3 linked regions of the Homo sapiens genome follow. The protein of the gene in region 2 interacts with the protein of the main gene of each other region in a biochemical or structural test. Each region holds a gene or a part of one and is shown on either strand. Other genes may lie near its edges.

The links. The genes of interacting proteins can lie anywhere in the genome.
Region 1: the proteins of HNRNPF (region 2) and NCBP1 form a complex in vitro, tested with the Homo sapiens proteins (one study listed by BioGRID).
Region 3: the proteins of HNRNPF (region 2) and NCBP2 form a complex in vitro, tested with the Homo sapiens proteins (one study listed by BioGRID).

The regions. Positions count from the first base shown.
Region 1 is NC_000009.12:97,636,814-97,643,845, reverse strand, and holds part of NCBP1 (nuclear cap-binding protein subunit 1), read right to left. Parts: intron 3,053-7,032; coding exon 2,964-3,052; intron 2,285-2,963; coding exon 2,184-2,284; exon of another isoform or gene 2,178-2,183; coding exon of another isoform or gene 2,155-2,177; intron 643-2,154; coding exon 486-642; intron 1-485. UniProt on the Homo sapiens protein: Component of the cap-binding complex (CBC), which binds cotranscriptionally to the 5'-cap of pre-mRNAs and is involved in various processes such as pre-mRNA splicing, translation regulation, nonsense-mediated mRNA decay, RNA-mediated gene silencing (RNAi) by microRNAs (miRNAs) and mRNA export.
Region 2 is NC_000010.11:43,406,164-43,413,947, forward strand, and holds the start of HNRNPF (heterogeneous nuclear ribonucleoprotein F), read right to left. Parts: upstream 3,024-7,784; 5' UTR 2,968-3,023; exon of another isoform or gene 2,927-2,967; intron 2,695-2,926; exon of another isoform or gene 2,564-2,694; intron 1,616-2,563; exon of another isoform or gene 1,554-1,615; intron 1-1,553.
Region 3 is NC_000003.12:196,934,881-196,939,535, forward strand, and holds the end of NCBP2 (nuclear cap-binding protein subunit 2), read right to left. Parts: intron 4,553-4,655; coding exon 4,371-4,552; intron 2,769-4,370; coding exon 2,630-2,768; intron 2,203-2,629; coding exon 2,131-2,202; 3' UTR 526-2,130; downstream 1-525. UniProt on the Homo sapiens protein: Component of the cap-binding complex (CBC), which binds co-transcriptionally to the 5' cap of pre-mRNAs and is involved in various processes such as pre-mRNA splicing, translation regulation, nonsense-mediated mRNA decay, RNA-mediated gene silencing (RNAi) by microRNAs (miRNAs) and mRNA export.

The DNA of each region.
Region 1 (7,032 bases), on a different chromosome or scaffold from region 2:
AAGAACATCTGGAGGAAGGCATAAACTATGCTAGAGGCCCTGGAGACTAAGAAAGGACAGACTTGAGAGAAATTAGGGAGACAGAATTGACAGGGATTGGGAACACCTATGGTACGAGAGGGCAAAGGGAAGACAAAAATTAATGCTCAGCTTTCTAGATGGGTTATTCAGTACACAGTGGCCACTGTATGAGCTGGGGAGAGGGCAGAAAAAAGGAGGTATGAATGATGCATTAATTTAGGCACTTCCTAGTAAGGTATCTGAAGGCTATGCAGCTAGCATCTGGAATACTGGACTGGAGCTCAGGAGAAAGGTTGGAGATACAGTTACAGATTTGGGGGTATCGTCAAAATAAAGGTGGCTTATGAAGCTATGAAAGTGAATGAGAATGTTTTAGGAGAGCATTTTAAATTATTTGGTTGTAGTTCACCTTTTCCCTCCATCCCAACAGTAGTCATAACATACCAACAAACAAACTAACTTACCAAATACACGGCTTCATTATAATTGTTTGCTTTCAATGATTCTTTAAGTTGACGAATCATGGCTTCTACAAATTCTCCACCAAAATTGTAATTCCTGGCATTCAGTAGTCCAACTAATGTTGTATAAATTGTCAGCTTCTCAGGTAATAGGCGTGCACTGATTTAAGAACCCAGTATAACAAGAAAACCCCAAAACAATGGCGTTAAGTTGCTGAATTTTATGTGAATCTTTTTATCATTCCATTAACTTTGGAACAGGATTACTTTTAGCTATGTCTTTAAAAATACTTCAGAAAAAGCATGTCATTGAGAAATGTTACAGACATAGTCCCGTAATTTTTCATTTTAATTCATCAGTTAATCTAAGAGTTAAGAAAGTAAATGATTTAATTGTAAAGTTATCATACTGAAATAAATAAAACTAATGCTACAACAGTTTTTCTTCAAGTGTGCTTAGTGGAACTGAATAGCATTTCCACAGAACATGGTTTCCATGGTAAAATAGCTCAGAAATCCTGGGTGAAACAAGCCTCTTTAATACAGAATCATTAAGGGGGGGCGTGCAGCATTCAGAATTTCTAAACTTAGCTAACCAAATGTCATGGAACTAGAATTCTACTTTGAGAAACACTATTCTAGTTGTTTAGAAAAGATGCACAATTAAAACGAGTTTCATCTAAGTTCCTACCAGTTTAATTATTGAATTTTTTAAAAACATACTCTGATATAGTTAAGATTTGTTTACGTCTCAGTTGCTTACTCCAAGTGTGCTGATTTCATTAAAGTTATTTTAAAAGTATGGGAAAGGATTACAATAAACCTTTAGAAAAAGCAATTTTTCCTAATTTAGGCAGCCTTTAGAATTAGCTCAAAAAGCAATAAGAATTCATAATCATTAAGTGGGCAAGAGATTCTCTTTGACTTGTTTTCCTAAAGTACCTAGCAGAACATCAGGGACAATCAAGGTCTTCAAAAAAAATACCTGTGTTGATGGTAACTGTGGTCCCTGAAACCCTCCCAAAACCAAAAATTAAAAAAGAACACTGCGAAGCAATACAAGTTCAGCCTTAAACAAACAAGGCTTCCAACAGTTTAAGTGTAAATACTACTCCATTTTAATAAAGGATTTCAGAAGATTTCCTTAGTAGTTTCTTAAAGTTACCTTCACTTGATCTAAACTAAAAGGCTGAGAAGTGATAAACATCACCTTCATAATTTAAAAACACCTCATGGATACATTACAATTTCATGTAACTACAAAGACTCCCATTTATCCAGAGAGTATGCCTATTAACAGTGGCTTCCAAAGCATCTTCAGTCTTCCAAGAAGGGCTATTACCTGAGTTACCAATTCCCAAATTTGTCTGGTACTAATTTAAAAATGTAAGTATCATACATTTAAATGTACATGCTTAAAAATATATATCTGAATGAGACAGTATCTACTATCTCTATAAAAAGTCAACTAAAATGATTCTAAGGTTGTAAGAACATACAAGGAAAATGTTCAATTTTAGTTTTATCCCTAAGAAAAAGAGTTCGCCAAAGCGCCAAAGGTTGGCTCATTTGTACAAATTTCCCCATAGAAGTAAAGCCAAGGACATATAGAACATAAACATGTATTTTGAACATTTCCCAAAGCATTTAAGAGTAGATAATACATTATCACCTGGATTCATAAATCTTTTGCATACATACACTGTACAAAGAAGCCTTAAGATCTTGCTCTTGTAGTTAGGAAGATCAGCTTCCAAAACACCAGCCAAGCCTTCTAGGTTGCTCTCCAAAGAGCAGGCACTCTGTAGAGGACATCACATTAAATATCTGTCAAGTACTCAGCAACATAAATTTATTTTTAAAAATCTATTTAAATGTAAATATATACATATTTTAAAATCTATCATTTTAAAATCATTACCAATCATCTGTCCTTTCAATTGCTATTTTAGTGAACTAAAATAAAAACTTCTGCATGATCATTAAAATAGTCTTACATGCATACAGAGCTATAATGGGTTTAGTATAAATCAATTCAGATAGTTATTGTTCTTCAGAAATCCATGAAAAGTGGACGAGTGAAATTTAAAAACTAAGCAGTCTATGATAACAGAATAAGTATTAGAAATGGGAGGACACCATGGGCTCCATTTTACCTCTTTTACTAATTCACTCTCTTACTCTGGGCAAATTACCTCAAGTATTCAGGGCTGATTTAGTTCATGCATAAATTAAGGGGTCTATACCCTAGGTCCCTTCTAAGGGCTCATCTTCTATGAAAATTATTAATTACTAAAGTACTAAAAATGATCAATTATCTACATCCCAGGGGCTTCAACATGGATTCAATTTGGGATACAGATGCATGGTAATACCAGCTTTGCCAAAATGTAGTCCAACTTTTCAGCTGCAAAAATTAATCAAAGCACAGTTAACCACATTCTTAAACCCATCACAGCCTGTGCCTATTGTGTGACATACCTTTTCTCCTACTTTACATATTAAAGATTCCAAATGATCTTCAGTTTCATTTGCATCAGAGGTCTTTCTCCTTTTGTGAGGCTGCCCACCTATTTCAGCAACATAAAAAATTAACATTACATGATAAATCTGCTATCACAAATTTTATTTAACCTTTTTAGGTTATAATCTCTTTTCTACCAGGCCCTATGTTTTTACAGAGTAGAAGCTCTTCACAGACCCTCCATTTCTCAGACTAAGCTAGATTAACCAACAGCCTCCCATTCCCAGAGCCACTATATACAATAACTCCAGGAGGCATTATTTATGTTAAATTTTGTGTGAGTAGTGCCCATGGAGCTATGCAATCAGCAGCCCTGTCCATTTCTGTGGACAAGCTGGAAAGCTGCCAACAACATGTTAAACACTAGTAGTTAGAATACTCATGTACCGCTACTCCCATTCTTTTAACTTGAGTTGTTTACTGATCCTCAGTTGCTTGTTCCGAAACCTGTTAGTACCAGTAGTATTCATTAGTCTAATAATGTATTATGTAAATGACAAAATAAGGGTGCAAAACCAAGTCGAATGCTTTGGAAAGACTTGATCAGAAAAAAAAGCTGTCATATCAGCTATAAAGAGGAAAGCTTCAAAAGATGGGAAAAAGGAGCATAAAACATTAGGATTTCTCACTTGCTTCACATGTTTCTAAGCTCTAATCTCAAGTCTTCAATTAACAATTTCAGTTCTGCATATGATGCAGCACAACGGTATAGTTTATCCTAAATAATGGGAACGACAGTCAGTATACGTATATTCAAAGAAAAGTCCTGAGCACTATATCAAAAAATTGGTGGAAAAAAGGACCACGTTTTACAATTCCTGCTTTAACTAGCTTTTATTAACTGAATTACTGATAACTGCTTTATTTAAAAACCATATCATTCGAATAATCTCTATGTTTTTTAAATCTACCATTCTAAAATCATTACCAAGCATCTGTCTTTTTGATTGCTCAACAATTCAAGTTGAATGAAGGTGTGCTAAAAATTAACCTCAAACACCTGTCTATTAAGACCCTTGCTGTTTGTATCTCTTACCACTTTGTTTAAAGCCTTAACACACTCACCTAAGTCCTTTTGTGGTATAACATAAAGCTTAAAAAATTAAAATAATAGTGTTAAGTATGGAACCTGATGCTGCTGCTAAACACTTTGGCTAGTCTAATACAATCCAATTTTCGACTTCCATTGATTCAATTATTTGGTCGGCATATGGACAAGAAAGCAAGAGCCTGTAACTGTGCAGGGAATCGGTATTAATAATGAAAATCTGCAGTTGGATATATGGTTACACAGTAGCAAGTTACATATAACTTCAATCTTCAGATCTGAACAGCCAAAGGAATTATTGTTACAAAGTTCATAATCACTTACTTGCCTATGGAACACTTGGCTTGAAAATGATGTATGGTGATTCTCATAAAACACAGCACCTGGCTATTCTAAGCTTGGAATGTTAAATCTATTGAATGACTGAAATGATCTTCAGATACCACATGAACTGAAGCTGAATAAAACGAATCTATTACTATCCACATAGGATCTGAGGGGGGGTATTATAAAGGTTACAGGGTAAGACACTCTGTACGTCAACTTCCCAACCCATTAATTACCATGATAACCTGACTGAATGTCCACTGACTATAATTTTGAAAGGATAATGCCACAAAAAGTATAATACGCATGCAGCATGAGAGCTGAGATGTATTTATTCCTGGAGATATCTGCCTGTGTAAAGTTGTAGACATGTGTGGCACAGAGGTTCAGGGACCTTGATTCTTAAGTATAGATCAAACCTAAGTCACAGGACCTATCAAGGTTCCACCACCCAAAGTGCCAAATTTCACACAAAGGTCTTTCATTTCCAGGATTCACTTATTGAAAAAAAGCATAATTGATGTAATATTTACGCAAGCTGCCAGCTAGGACATTCAAATAGCCTTCTTCTACAGCAGTAGTTCTCAACAGGGTGTAGATTTTGCCCCCAGTGGTCATCTGGCAAACCTTGGAGACATTTTTAGTAGTCAAAACTAGGGGAAGCAACTGGCATCTAGTGGGTAGGGGCCAGGCATGCTGCTAAATATCTCACGTTGCATAGGGCATCTCCCAAAACAAATAACTGGCCAAGAATGTCAATAGTGCTGATGTTAAGAAACCGTATTCTAGAAAGCAGAGCTCCTCAGAACCAAATTTCAGTGAGGTTGGGAGAATGCAGATGCTGAAAAACTAGCTGAATGAGAGCAGTTATTTTTTGTTGCTGTTTTTTAAACCTTAAGCACACTGTTCCCTTCTTTCTGGCTCATCTATTTTGCCAACCCTTTATTCCACCTCTACAGTCTTCCTAACTTAACTTTCCAGCTGGCTTGTTCCAGTTTGGAATCATACCACAGCCTTTAAAGCAACCCTCCTAGGCCCTCTTATAAGCTTGAAAAGGGGAAAATAGTGCTGTGGGAAGAGAAGGTATGATTTCTGAGAAACAACTAGAAAATACATGTACATAGTCACATCTCTGAACTGCAAACCCTTTGTTCATTTTGGCTATATTAAAGGACAATATTTGTCTGGAGAATGGGAGGAGGCAGAAAGTATTAAGAGGTAAGAAATGTTCCACTTTCACCTGATAGTTGAGAGACTATAAAGGGGTGAAGACTACAGACAAAATCTGAACTTACGAACAGAAACATGATATTGAACTCATAAGACAACCTGGGTAAGGGAACAGGGAAATGAAATAAAACAATACGAATACAATTTGGGGAATTCGCTCAATGTACCCTGAAGAAAACGTATCTATGGTAGTTCCCAAGGCAAGAACAGATTTTTTATTAAAATTTAACTATGTAAAAGTTTTAAAATGTAAATTAAAGATAACATTACCACTTCACTCAGACAGACTTGGCTAGTATAGAGAAGCAGGTATAAAATCCATCTGAAAGGATCTTAATAAACCAAATAAATTTCCCCTCTATAAGTCAATCCTAATTTTATACGGGTACACTGTACATCTTATAGCCTTACAAGAAATTTTAGACCCACAAAATGGAAAACAAAAACCAACCCTGTAAAATAGAAAAGTAAAGTAACTAAAACCAACAACTTCAACATTACGTTTTTAAACCTTAAGCACACTGTTCCCTTCTTTTTGGCTCATCTATTTTGATATTGAACAACTTGAAAGATAACATGCCTTGAGCCCGCAGACTTAAAACAGGCAACCATCACTTCTGAAATAAACTATACTCTCTCAAAATAACAAATCCTTTCACTTCTATTTTTTTCTTTAGTTAAGTAAAAAAATCAGCCACAGTCCAAAAGACAAGGACCTAATTCTAAGAAGCTTAAATGGGGCTAATACAGCAAATCTGAAATTTTTGTAAATTGCCCAAATTCCCAAAATTGTATTCGTATTGTTTCTAGCTAAGATTTTGAACAATCTAAATACTTTCTTAAAAGAACAAACAATGGACTGCATATCCCATAGTAACTAAAAAGCTTCAGAGACATTTTTAAAGCAAGTCTAAGCAATTAGTTAAGATTTAGCACTGGACTAGTATCCATACACATTACTTTCCATTTAGCATTTCCTTTTCCTTGTTTATAAATGGACTACTACATGAACTTCATTGGTATAGCCTCCTAATCCTACCCCCCTTAATCTTTGATAGTCGAGTCTCAACACAGAAGTATAATTTTATAATCTCCCTATAAGATGCAACCCTCTGCTATCTCTCTAATCTTATCTCCTACAACTTCCCCCTCACTCACTCTGCTCCAGCACCACTGGCCTCCTTGCTCTTCTGTTAACATGACAGGAACCCTATAGTCTTCAGGCTTTTGTGCCCATGGTTACCTTTGGATCACAGCTTTTCCCCATACAGCTATATGGCTGCTACCTTACCTCCGGCAAGTCTTTGTTCAAATGCCATTCACACCGAAGCCTTCTCTAATCAACTTACATAAAATAGTAACTTCTCCCTCACAGAAATCTCTCCCCTCTTTACCTGGTATCACTCCATAGCGCCTGTCAC
Region 2 (7,784 bases):
GCTCAGTGGGGGAGAGGGAATTAGAGAAGTCACCTCCAAGGAAAGGGCCTGTCACATTTCTGCAGCCCCTGCAGGCATCTACCCCCACCGGGCTCTCATTTGCCTCCAGGCTTTCCAAGGTTCTGGCCACGTGGGAGAAGTAACTTTCTATTTACTCAGTCTTTTCCCTTAAATAAATTCCATTTTTTACCTGAATAAAGCTTTATAACGCTACCCTTAACAGAAAACTTGGCAGTTTACAAAAAAGTGGCCGGGCACGATGGCTCACGCCTGTAATCCCAGCACTTTGGGAGGCAGAGGCGTGAGAATCGCTTGAGCACAAAAGTTTGAAAATCAATCTGGGCAACATAAGGAGACCCCATCTCTACAAAAAATACAAAAATTTGCCGGGCGTGCTGGAGAGTGCCCGTGGTCCCAGATACTCGGCGGCTGAGGTGGGAGGATCCGTTGAGCACAGGAGGATCTCGGCAGCGAGCCGAGATCACACCATTGCACTCCAGCCTGGGCAACAAAGTGAGACCCTGTCTCAAAAAATAATACATATTTTTTTATAGAGACGGGGTAGGTCTCTGGGGCCCAAGCGATCCTCCCACACCTCGGCCTCCCTAAATGCTGGGATTACAGGCGTGAGCCACCTCGCCCGGCCGATAATGACTCTAATCTACAGAATGCACACCGGAATGTAATACCTACAAGGGAAAAGATCTTCTTGCTTAGGAATAAAGCAATCTCTCTCTTAATATTCATTAAAGTAGTAATGTCTTATTTTATAGTTTATAAATTCTGTGAGAGCAACGAGTCACTTTGCAGGAATAGCACTTAAGGTATCTTTCACCTACCTGGAGAACCCAAGAAATTTTCATCTTACTAGGAATTCAGAGACAACCACGTATTTAACTTTTAAAAATATAACTAAGTAGAAAGAATTATATGCGTGTATTTTTGGAAGAATTAAGATGACTTTTGGGACGGAACGACTGAAAACTACGCTTTCAGAACTCCCTGCCGCCTGAGGCTGTGGCCCTGACCCCGGCGCAGGGCCCGCCCCGCGCGGTTCCGGGAAGCCGCCGCCGCCGCCCGTTGCCCTTCGCGCGCAGCCGCCAGCGCGCGCCTCGCGTCCCGCCACGCAGATGGCCGGCCCGAGCCCCCAGCGCCCGCGAGCAGTTTCGAGAACTAAAGAGGCGCGTCAGCTCGTCCCCGGGCCGCCCGCGGGCAATGGCCGAGCTCGGCTCTCCTTCCACCCTCCGCCGGGACACACGCGGAGCCGAGCGGGGGTCCCAGGCGCCTAGGGGGAGGGGTTCCCGCGCCCGGGGCGGCCTTGGGGGGAGGGCGAGTCGGGTGCCTTGCTCCTCAAAACCCTGGTCCACGACTCTGCGGTTGGGGGAGCCGGGCAGCCGGCGCAGCAGGAGCCGGGCCCCGTCCACAAGTTTCCTACGAGCAGGGCGGAATCGACGAAAATACTTAATACAAACAAACAAAAGGAAAAAAAAAAGGACGACTAAGCTGAAGAGCGCGCACGAGTCAGATTTTCACCCCAAATACAAACACGATACCTCTAGGAGCAGGAGACCAATACAGGGACCGCGCTCCGAGGACACGCGGCGCAGCCGAGGAGGAAAAAGGGCCCGGGGCCGAGAGCTAAGGCTACGGGAACCGGGCGTGGGAGGAGGGCGGAGCCAACTCCCCACAAGGAAGTCTTGTGCAACTCTCAGGCGCCTGCAGCCACGTGAGCGCGCGGCTTTCATTTTACTCAGGTATTATTACTATTATTACTTCTTTTGAGACAAGGTCTCATTTCCGTCGCCCGGCTGGAATGCAGTGGCACAATCACTGTCACTGCAGCCTCGACCTCAGAGCAAGCGACCCTCCCGCCTCAGCCTCCCGAGTAGCTGGGACAACAGGCGCGCGCCACCACACGTGGCTAATTTTTTTTTCTTTACTTTTCAGTAGAGACAGTCTATGTTGCCCAGGCTTGTCGGGAACTCCTGGGCTCAAGAGATCCTCCCGGCTGGGCCTCCCACTGCGCCAGGCCTGTTCTCACTTTCAGAGCCCTCCGGCAGTCGCCAGCTCCCCGCCAGGGGGCCGGACTAACGCACCCGGCCGTCCGTGCCTTCCCCGCGCTTTCCTGACTCCAAAATCTCAGCCCGCGGTGCTCACCGCGTGGGACCACTGTCTGGGCGTGCGGCTCTCGACCTCCGACGCTGCGTCTCCCGATCCCAGTGGGTCCAGTTCTTGCCGGTCCCACGTACGGGCCCCTCGACCTCGAATCCCGTCACCCAAATCTCAGCGCCACGGCCCCTCATTATGTGCAGTCCTCGCTCGGTCCCAGGTTTGCGGCGCTTAAACTCAGATCGCTCTTCCCTGATCCCAAATCCCAGCCCCAGCCCAACGATCCCCACCCCAATAGGCCCAGTCCCCAGGTAGTCCGGGTACGGGGCCCTGGACTTCGGATAGTCTCCCTAATCTCAAATCCCACCCCCCGTCCCCACCCCCAGGGGGACCCGGTCCCCGCTAGGTCCCGGGTGTGCGGCCTTCGACCTCGGAGACTTCGGCCGCCCCTCACCTCGGCCTCCGAGTCTCTACACTCCCGCTCTCATATCAGGCACCCCGGTGGTCCCTTGGAGCACCTAGAGGAGGGTGGGACGCGGGGAACTTGGCAGTTGTAGCAGAGGCAGTTGAGGCTTGTTGACCATCACCATGGAAACCCCCGCCTGCGAGCACGGGGCGGAGCCTACGAGGGGCGGGGTCAGGCGCGCTGCCGGCCCCAATCCTCAGCGCCTGCCCGTCGAGCGCACGCGGCTTTGCCGGAAGCCCTCCTGCTCCCGGCGAGCCAGGCCCCGACTAGGCCCTACTGCCCGGCTCAGCCCTTTGCCCTGGACACCAGGAAACAGAAGCCCAAGGAGCCCGCGTCCCCACCCCCTGCTACCTGCCGGCGTGACAGCGATTCGGTGGCCCCCCGAACCCCACCTTGAGGAAGACGCGGCGCAGTCCTGCTTCCACGACGGAGCCGGAAGGACGCAAGGACCGCGGCAGGGCGGAGTTTCTGCGTCCGGCGTCCGGGGGCGGGGCCGCGACGGCGCATTGTGACGCGCCAGAGCTGAGCCGCCGGTTGGCCGGCTGGGCGCGGAGCAGAGCCGACACGGCTGGCGGGGGAGGCGGTGGAGGCGGACAAGCGAGGACGTTTCTGGAGAGGAGAAGGGAGGGGAGGGGAGGGGATAGGGGGAGGGGGAGGAGGAGGAGGGAGTGGAGCGGCGGGAAAGATCCCTCTGACTGCCCCTGAGGCCCTGGAGGAAGGACACTGGTGAGCCCCGCAGGACACTGAAATGTGCGCCGAAAGGACGCCTGATGGAAGACTAGGATGGGAAAAGGAAATGAGAGCCGATGGCAGGGCGTGGTGGCGCAAGCCTGTGGTCCCAGTAATTTGGGAGGCTAAGGCGGGAGAATCGCTTGAGCCCGGGAGGTCGAGGCTGCAGTGATCCGTGACTGCTCCATTGCGTCCAGCCTGGGCGACAGAGCGAGGCGCTGTCTCAAAAAATAAAATAAGGAAAGTAGTACACTGAAGGCCGGGCGCGGTGGCTCACGCCTGTAATCCCACCACTTTGGGAGGCCGAGGCGGACGGATCAGGCGGTCGGGAAATCGAGACCATCCTGGCCAACATAGTGAAACCCCTACTAAAATACAAAAAAATTAGCCAGGCGTGGTGGCGCGCGCTTGTAGTCCCAGCCACTCGGGTGGCTGAGGCAGGGGAATCGCTTGAACCCGGGAGGCGGAGCTTGCGTGAGCCGAGATCGCGCCACTGCACTCCAGCCTAGCGACAGAGCGAGACTACGTCTCAAAGAAAAAAAAAAAAAAAAGGTACACTGAGTACTCCGGAGACCGCCTAAAGGGGTCTCAGAGCAGGGCGTTAGGAGGGATTTGTCAGGTTGAAGTTGCTCAGGTGATAAATTCCGTGGTGTGAGAAGCCCCCAAACCTCAGAATGTAACTCAGACCCAGGTCGAGGGCAAGATTTTCAGTCACAGAGCACCTGAACACACAGATTTGGTGGCTAATGGCTAAGCCAGGGACAGATTTTCTTTCTTTTCTTTTTTTTTTTGATGTATTGTAGGGCTAATAATTGTAACCATTTTATTTTGGTGGATCTTCTTCATGAAGAGATGATGTCAAGGCACTCATCACAGGTTAAGCTGAACATTGTTACTATTGTTATTATTTCCAGACTGAGTATCGCCCTGTCATTCAGGCGGGAGTGCAGTGGTACAATCACGGCTCACTGCAGCCTCGACCTCCTGGGCTCAAGCGATCCTCCTGCCTCAACCTCCTGAGTAGCACCACCACTCTCGGCTAAATTTTGTATTTTTTGTAGAGGCGAGGTTTCGCTGTGTTGCCCGGGCTGGTCGGGAACTCCTGGACTCAAGCCATCCGCCCACCTACGCCTCCCAGAGTGTTGGGATTACTGGATTGAGCCACGCATCTGGCTGAACGTTATTTTTTAAATCACCAGAGAAAGTAAAGGAGTGCTCAAAATAGTGTCAGATGATGAGTGGGATGATTGTGATGAAGGAAGGAGTTTGTTAAAAGAAAAAGCTAGTTCCAAGAAAGAGAATGGAAAGAGTAAAGCAGGAGCTGTCAGAATAGGTAAAAATGTCCAAAGAGAAAACTGCATAATTTGAGGCAAAATTACAGAAAATAGTTCCTGCAAAAATCAGATAGGTATTCAGCATCATAGGAAAGGGGCGAAAATCAGATAGGTAGGTATTCTTAAGAAGTTGTGGCCGGCCGGGCGCGGTGGCTCGCGCCTGTAATCCCAAGACTTTGGGAGGCCGAGGTGGGTGGATCACCTGAGGTTAGGCGTTTGAGACCAGCCTGGGCAACATGGCGAAACCCTGTCTCTACTAAAAATACAAAAAAAAATTAGCCGGGCGTGTTGGCGCGTACCTGTAGTCCCATCTACCCTGGAGGCTGAGGCAGGAGAATCGCTTGAATCCAGGAGGTGATGGTTGCAGTGAGCCGAGATTGCACCATTGCCCTCCAGCCTGGGTAACAAGAGCGAAACTCTGTCTCAAAAAAAAAAAAAAAGTCATACAGTGACTGCATCACAGCTCATGCTGTAGAAAGATGTTTCTGGAGAGAAAAATTCAAGTAGCCAATTTAAATCGAATATTAGGAAAATTAAACCAAAAGGGCTCACGCCTGTAATCCTAGCACTTTGGGAAGCCGAGTCAGGCGGATTACCTGAGGTCAGGAGTTCAAGACCATCCTGGCCAACATGGTGAAACCCTGTCTCTACTAAAAATACAAAAATTAGCCGGGCGTGGTGGCACATGCCTGTAATCTCAGCTACTCAGGAGGGTGAGGCAGGAGAATTGCTTGAGCCCAGGAGATGGAGGTTGCAGTGAGCCAAGATTTTGCCACTGCACTCTAGCCTGGCCGACAGAGCAAGACTCTGTCTCAAAAAAAAAAAAAGAAAGAAAATTAAACCAAAAGACTAGTAATGCTTCAGAAATTAGGGACTGTTAAACCAGCTGCAAGAAGATATATTCATGCAATCTTTGTATTAAGAGTCTCTCTGGCTGGGTGCGGTGACTCAGACCTGTAATCCCAGCACTTTGGGAGGCCAAGGCCAGTGGATTGCTTGAGCCCTGGAGTTCAAGACCAGCCTGGGGAACATAGTGAGACCCAGTCTGTATTTTAAAAGTTAAAAAAAAAAAAAAGCCTCTAAGCTAAGTGGACCTTTGATCCCCTCACTCAAATTTGACAGTTCTCCATTATTCATAAATGAGGTAATAGTTGTTGGAGACGGTCTTCTCTGAATGCAAGACTAGTACTTTGGCCTGATTATAGAACTTCCTGCCGTCCTAAGGAGTCATCCCAGGTGTCCACTATATCTTTTTCAGCATTGAGTACCAGCACAGTCACATGTAGGCTTTATCCCACAGTGAAGACTTGGCATCACTCAGAATGATGCCACAGGTCCTAGGCCTTTTCCACACTGGGCTCACTTCACCAACTCGCAAATGCTCATCCACACCTGGTCCACCTGGACTACCTCCTTATCTGTAGCCCTTTCACCTCTGTGTCCATAGAAATGTCTTACCTAAGCTCTGAAATCTAAACATTCAGAGAGCACCTTGATGCTTGAGAGCATCTACACAGAGATGAACCTTTAAGATCTATGGTTTAAAACAATTGAATTCCAAGATGTTGCCCCTTACAGACTGACCTGCCTGATTATTTCCTGTTGTTTATGTACATTGATTATTATCAAAAACTTAATACTTTATTTTTTTTGAGACGGAGTCTCGCTCTGTCGCCCAGGCTGGAGTGCAGTGGTGCGATCTCAGCTCACTGCAAGCTTCTCCTCCCGGGTTCACGCCATGCTCCTGCCTCAGCCTCCCGAGTAGCTGGGACTACAGGCGCCCACCACGGCGCCTGGCAAATTTTTTTTTATTTTTAGCAGAGACAGGTTTTCACCGTGTTAGCCAGGATGGTGTCAATCTCCTGACCTCGTGATCCGCCCGCCTCGGCCTCCCAAAGTGCTGGGATTACAGGCGTGAGCCACCGCGCCCAGCCAAAAACTTAATAGTTTTTAATAAATATTGTCAGGTTTTTTTTTTTTTTTTTTTTTGAGACGGAGTTTTGCTCTTGTCACCCAGGCTGGAATGCAATGGCACGATCTTGGCTCACCGCACCCTCCACCTCCCAGGTTCAAGCGATTCTCCTGCCTCAGCCTCCCGAGTAGCTGGGATTAGAGGTGCCCACCACCAGGCCCGGCTAATTTTTGTATTTTTAGTAGACACGGGGTTTCGCCTTGTTGGCCAGGCTAGCCTTGAACTCCTGACCTCATGATCCACCCGCCTCCGCCTCTCAAAGTGCTGGGATTACAGGCGTGAGCCACCGCGCCTGGCCAATATTGTCAGTTTTAAAAAATAAGTTCCCCTCTAGACACTACTTATCCATACAATTGGTTACAGGTTTGGAGCGTTACAGAGGTTTTTAAATCTTCTACTCAGTAGTTCTTGAAAAATCACCTTACCTATTAAGCTGAGATTCCCCCTTCCCGCAAGACGGTGCCATTAAGTAGGCAGGGATCACCAAGGTTCAGAGATGTCTCTTGCTCAAAAATCATAGTATCTGTTAAATAGCAATAACCGTAGCTAACACATACTGCATTCTCACTATGCTTTGTGCTATTCTACTTAATCCCACTGAAACCTGGTAACAACCCTGCAGTAGATACTACCACCATTTGGCGGAAAGAAACTGAGTCACCCAGCTTCTAGATGGCTGAGCTGGAAGTTGTATGGAGGCTGGAGGCCCCATCTGATTCCAGGGTCCGTTCTCAACTACTGCAATCTAGATCCTAGCGAGAAACGGGCTTTTCAGGCTGTCTCCTCCCTTTCCCATCTGAGAGGAGAATGAAGGAAGTGAGAAAGCCAACTGACCTGTCTAGTCAGTATAGGCCCTGTCTAAATGTCACTTTTCTCCTTGAAGCGAGGTGCTCTAGGAGGCAGAGATAACCCAGGTGGGAAGAGGCACATTCGGCAGTGACAGCCTTGTCTGGTTAATTTTCATGACCAATATAGAAAAGTGCAACTTTGAGGCCGGGCACGGTGGCTCACGCCTGTAATCCCAGCACTTCGGGAGGCCGAGGCCGGCGAATCACGAGGTCAGGAGATTGAGACCATCCTGGCTAACACGGTGAAACCGTGTCTCTACTAAAAATACAAAAAATTAGCCAGGTGAGGTGGCGGGTGCCTGTAGTCCCAGCTACTCGGGAGGCTG
Region 3 (4,655 bases), on a different chromosome or scaffold from region 2:
AATGTTCTATATCTTCATCTTAGCTTGACTGAGAAACTGAATGTTTAATTCTCACACTTCACTAACATGTATTAATAGTGATGCCTTCATCTGTACGTTTGAATTTTCACTTTTCTCCGATTAAAGTGAGAAACAGGTCAGATGCTATCCATGAGAAATAGGAAAGAATGGTGCAGTAAAGAGACTCACATTTAGTGTTCTCTAGCCCAGGAAACATAAGATGTTCTTAATCCACCCACAATTTCCCTTCCCTTGCAATCATCCAGAGCATGTTTTTTGGAAAACTAACCTATTCTTCCATCAGTAGAGGTTGCTTGGTGCCTATTTGATCACTTTCACAAGAAAATCTGTGCGCTCTCTTCACACGCAGCAATAGTTATTTCCAACTGTCAGTCAATCAAAATGGACACGCGAATTGTCCACACTATTCATAGAATCCCCCTGGAACTCATTCATGTGTATCCAGAGTACAGGAATTCCAGAACACAACCCTCTTTATAGGCCAGGAAACAGGCAGCAACAACGATAAGTTCATCCAGCTTTATTGAAACCTATTACAGAAGACAATCCGAATAAAACCACTGTCTCCTGTAGAAATCTGAGTTATGTTGTTTTACTACAAAAGAATATAAAACACATTAAATTACAGTGTGAAGGAATTTTAAAAATGAACAGTGTATCCTCATTAAATGTTTGCAAAGTTTCTTCCTAAGCACTTACAACTAGTTACAGCTCTTTTAAAAATTCAGATTTCTACACTCAGTTTAACGGGAGAGACATTCACACTTAGGTACTTCAGCCCCAACTTTCACGGACTATTGGAAATTAGAAGGTACTTTGTTGCTAAGTGAAAAAAATGCACATTTTTTCATATCAGGGAAAATTATACTGGACTTAACAGTTTTAAATGAGCAATAACTCAGATATATTAGAGAGAAATCACCTCTTGCCTTACAAATACCAAATAAATTCCCTAGACTCCCCTCCCTGTAGAGACCATCAGCTCACTGTGAAGGCTTGAGCCTCAGTAGGTAAAATTTGAGGAAAAAAATGAGAAATGGCTAAAAGAGGCATCTGCTGCAGGAACCTTCTGTGACTGTCAAACATTCCCTCTTCAAGCTCCCTTTTAAAACCCAGTCCATTCCCAACATCACTGAAAATGAAAAGAATAAACTTGCTGGTCCTCATGTCAAGGCAGTGTTTTCATTGTCTCTTGATATTTTATCCCATTTCCTATTGACAACATCTCCCCTACCCCTGAAATTATTTAGAGGTTCCCTCTATGACAAACCCTTGCTTTTTTTTAGCTTTAGGTATAACACTGACATCTTTTGAAAAACGTGTTAGTAAATACTCAAGTTCTGGCCTCATTTCCTGATGTATGAAGCATGGAAGCAGTGCTGTCCTGTGGAGATTGCTTTTGCACCAACTACACAGGAAGGTCCTTGACCTCTAAGCATGCCTTTAGAGGTTAGAATTCACAGAAAACAAATTCAATTGTCAAACACCTGTTCCTAATTTTGTGCAAAGCAATACAACATAGCACAACTCCATTTGTTGTTTTTCGTTGTGCTTTGTAGAGACGGGGTCTTGCTATGTTGCCCAGTCTAGTCTCAAACTCCTGGCCTCAAGCTATCCTTCCTCCTCAGCCTCCCAAAGTGTTGGGATTACACGTGTGAGCCACCATGCCTGGCCCCACCTCCATTTATTAGGCTATCTCATGCAAACTTAAAATTAAAAAAATAATCCCAGGCCCCAATGTAGATCATGAACCTACTTAAGACTCATTATGGTAAAAACAAATTCTTACATTTTTCTGTCTTTCTAAAAGTGTAGTGGTTATGGCTAAAGACTAATCAACATTACAGATCCAATCTGTTGTCAAAGAACACAATTTCTGACCTGGTAACAAAATTGTTCTGATAATCTGACACATGGCCAAGATTCTCAGACAAGAATTAAAGGCATTCTTTTGGATTCTGTCCTTTAATAACTTTCAGAGGCTTCCAGCTCAGTAAAGACACTGATCAAATCTTGGTAAAAATGGGCTCGTGTGCAGACTTTAGGTGATGTTCTTCAGCAAATTCAACAGGCCAAAGGAGTGTTTGTCACTGACAGAGCTCTCACCACTCACTGGTTCTGTGCCAGTTTTCCATAGCCTCCTCTCCCAGCATCGTAGTCCTGCCGATACTCATCCCGAACCTTTAATGGAAAGAATCCAGAGTTACAGTATGGAAAAGAATGGTGTAACAAATATGCCTCCCACAAACATGTTAGACAAACAGTGAAACCTGTTCAGATGCCACAATGTGAACATTTCAAGCAGGACATATGCACTTCAGCTCACTTCAGTGCGTTTTGCTTTCATTTTAGATGTTCCTGCAGGTGGAAGATACCTAGCCCTAGCAGAAGTTCAAGAATGGTTGCTTGTTAGAAACGTACAGAACATACCATTTCACGGTTTAAAAAAAAAATTCACCCAAACCGTTGGGTGGTTTTCAGATCCACTTCAAGCCAAGGTTATAGACACAAAGTTATTTACAAAAGAGTAAATACAAATTGCCAAAACACCTGTCATTGTGACTGGAATCCCAGGCAATGGCTGAGCCCAGAGACCCTTCTTGCATACCTGGCCCCCAGATCGCCCACGGCCGTATTGCCTGCCCTCCTTAAAGCCTGCGTCCCAGTCTGTGCGAATGATTCGGTCATCCAGACGCGTCCCATTTATGTACCGCATGGCGTTTTCCGCATCTGCGCGTGAGTAATATCTTAAGTATTAAGGAACACTAGCATTTTTCCAAACATTTCTGGAAATAGGGGAACAACATGTAAATGAAGCTGAGTTGTTAAAAAGTACAAGAGCTAATCCAACCAGATGGAGTTCAAAGACAGTAATTCAGCTTGCCCAGGCCTGTTTGCGATTGGTTTGGAAGCACATAGAGTCAAATATGACACGTATCCATGGCTACACTGATCATATTTCTTGGACATTCCTGTTGATAATTTTTGGTCCCATCATCTCTGTATTTTGGTTTGCAAGTTTAGATCACTGTACACTTCTTATCCAAGAAACCAGTGCTGTATATTCAAGTTAGGTTCTGTACATTCCAAGGCACCCTAATCAAGAGAAGGTCACCGTGCACGTGGAATTGTGCTGCACTTCACTAAAGGAAAGACTCAAGCTGTCACCAAGGTAGCAGTTCCCAAACCTACTTCATCAGAGACCTCCCTTTAATTAAAGGGGAAGACATTTAATCTCAGACAAATAAAAATAAGACAACAGTGTTCTGAATAAACCATCTGGAGAAACTAGTATCTTTGATGTTAGCAAGCCAAAATAAAATCTCTTTTCATTCTAGCATTTGGGAAACCTGTGTATCCCCGAGGCAAGCCTGCAATCTGGGAGAGAAGCCCTGCCTGGGTCCAGTGAGTCAGCATTCTTTTCCTTAATTATGAGCAGAAATCCAGGGATCACCAGACACTTAAGGAAAAATTTCAACCGAAACAAACATAATTCAGGGCACAGGAAAAAATTCAAAAGATATATTAAATTGGGCCTGCAAAATTTCTCAGAATATTAAATTGAATGACCAAAACATACAGTAAAAAGAACATAGGATAAATCCAAGAGGTCCAATACTTAAAAGAGTCTGAGTAAGGGAATTAAATGATCAAAGTAAATAGTTTTGGTTTGTACCTATACAGTCAGGTTATATACATCTATATAATGAAATACTATACAGCTATTTACTTAAAAGTTTTTTTCTTTAAAGATGGGGTCTTAACCCGTCACCCCCGCTGGAACACAGTCACAACTCAGTGCAGCCTTGAAATCTTGGGCTCAACTGATCCTCCTGCCTCAGCTTCCTGAGCAGCTGGCACTACAAACACCAGCCACCATGCCCAGCTGTACAGCTATTTTAAAAAAAGACCTACATATGCTGAAATGGAACAATAAAAAATAAAAAAATGATTTTAAAAACAGCACATGAAATACACTACCGCACACCCACAGGGTTACTTCTTGAAAGACGCCCAAGAAACTGGTAACTGACTGCCTCTGGCAAAGGGCATTAGGGGTTTAGAACAGTACGAGATTTTTATATTTTCACTACATTCTTTGGAATTTTTTTTTTTTTACGTGAAGGGCAAACATTCTTGAAAAACTTTTTGTTAAAGAACCATAAAGCATGGATTTCAGAAGAGAATATAAATAGTATCAGCTTTACAGTATAAGGGCAGAGACACACTGGGTGGAAAGTAGGAGGGAGATGAAGGAAAACGTAGGGACGAGTGCAGGGACGCTTATGAGCTACCACTCTCAGCTCTACCCTGGTTCAGCAGCTACATTAGATCCATGGGAAGGATACTCCACAAAACAGAATCCACATGCTGTTTTCTTCATTTTATCCAGACCCATAATGATTTTCTTTATGTCACCACTTTTGCTGAAGAGTTCATAGATTTGTTCTTCAGTTGTGTAAAAAGAAAGATTTCCAACATATAACGTACAGCTTTTCTTCAGTAATTTTTCTTGTTCTTCATTGTCACCCTAGAATTTCAAATAGAGACAAAAGTTAAGCAACTTCAGAGCCTTGCTTAAATAGTATTTCTAAGTACGGTAGAGACATTCATTAATTCTGGTTTGGAAATCA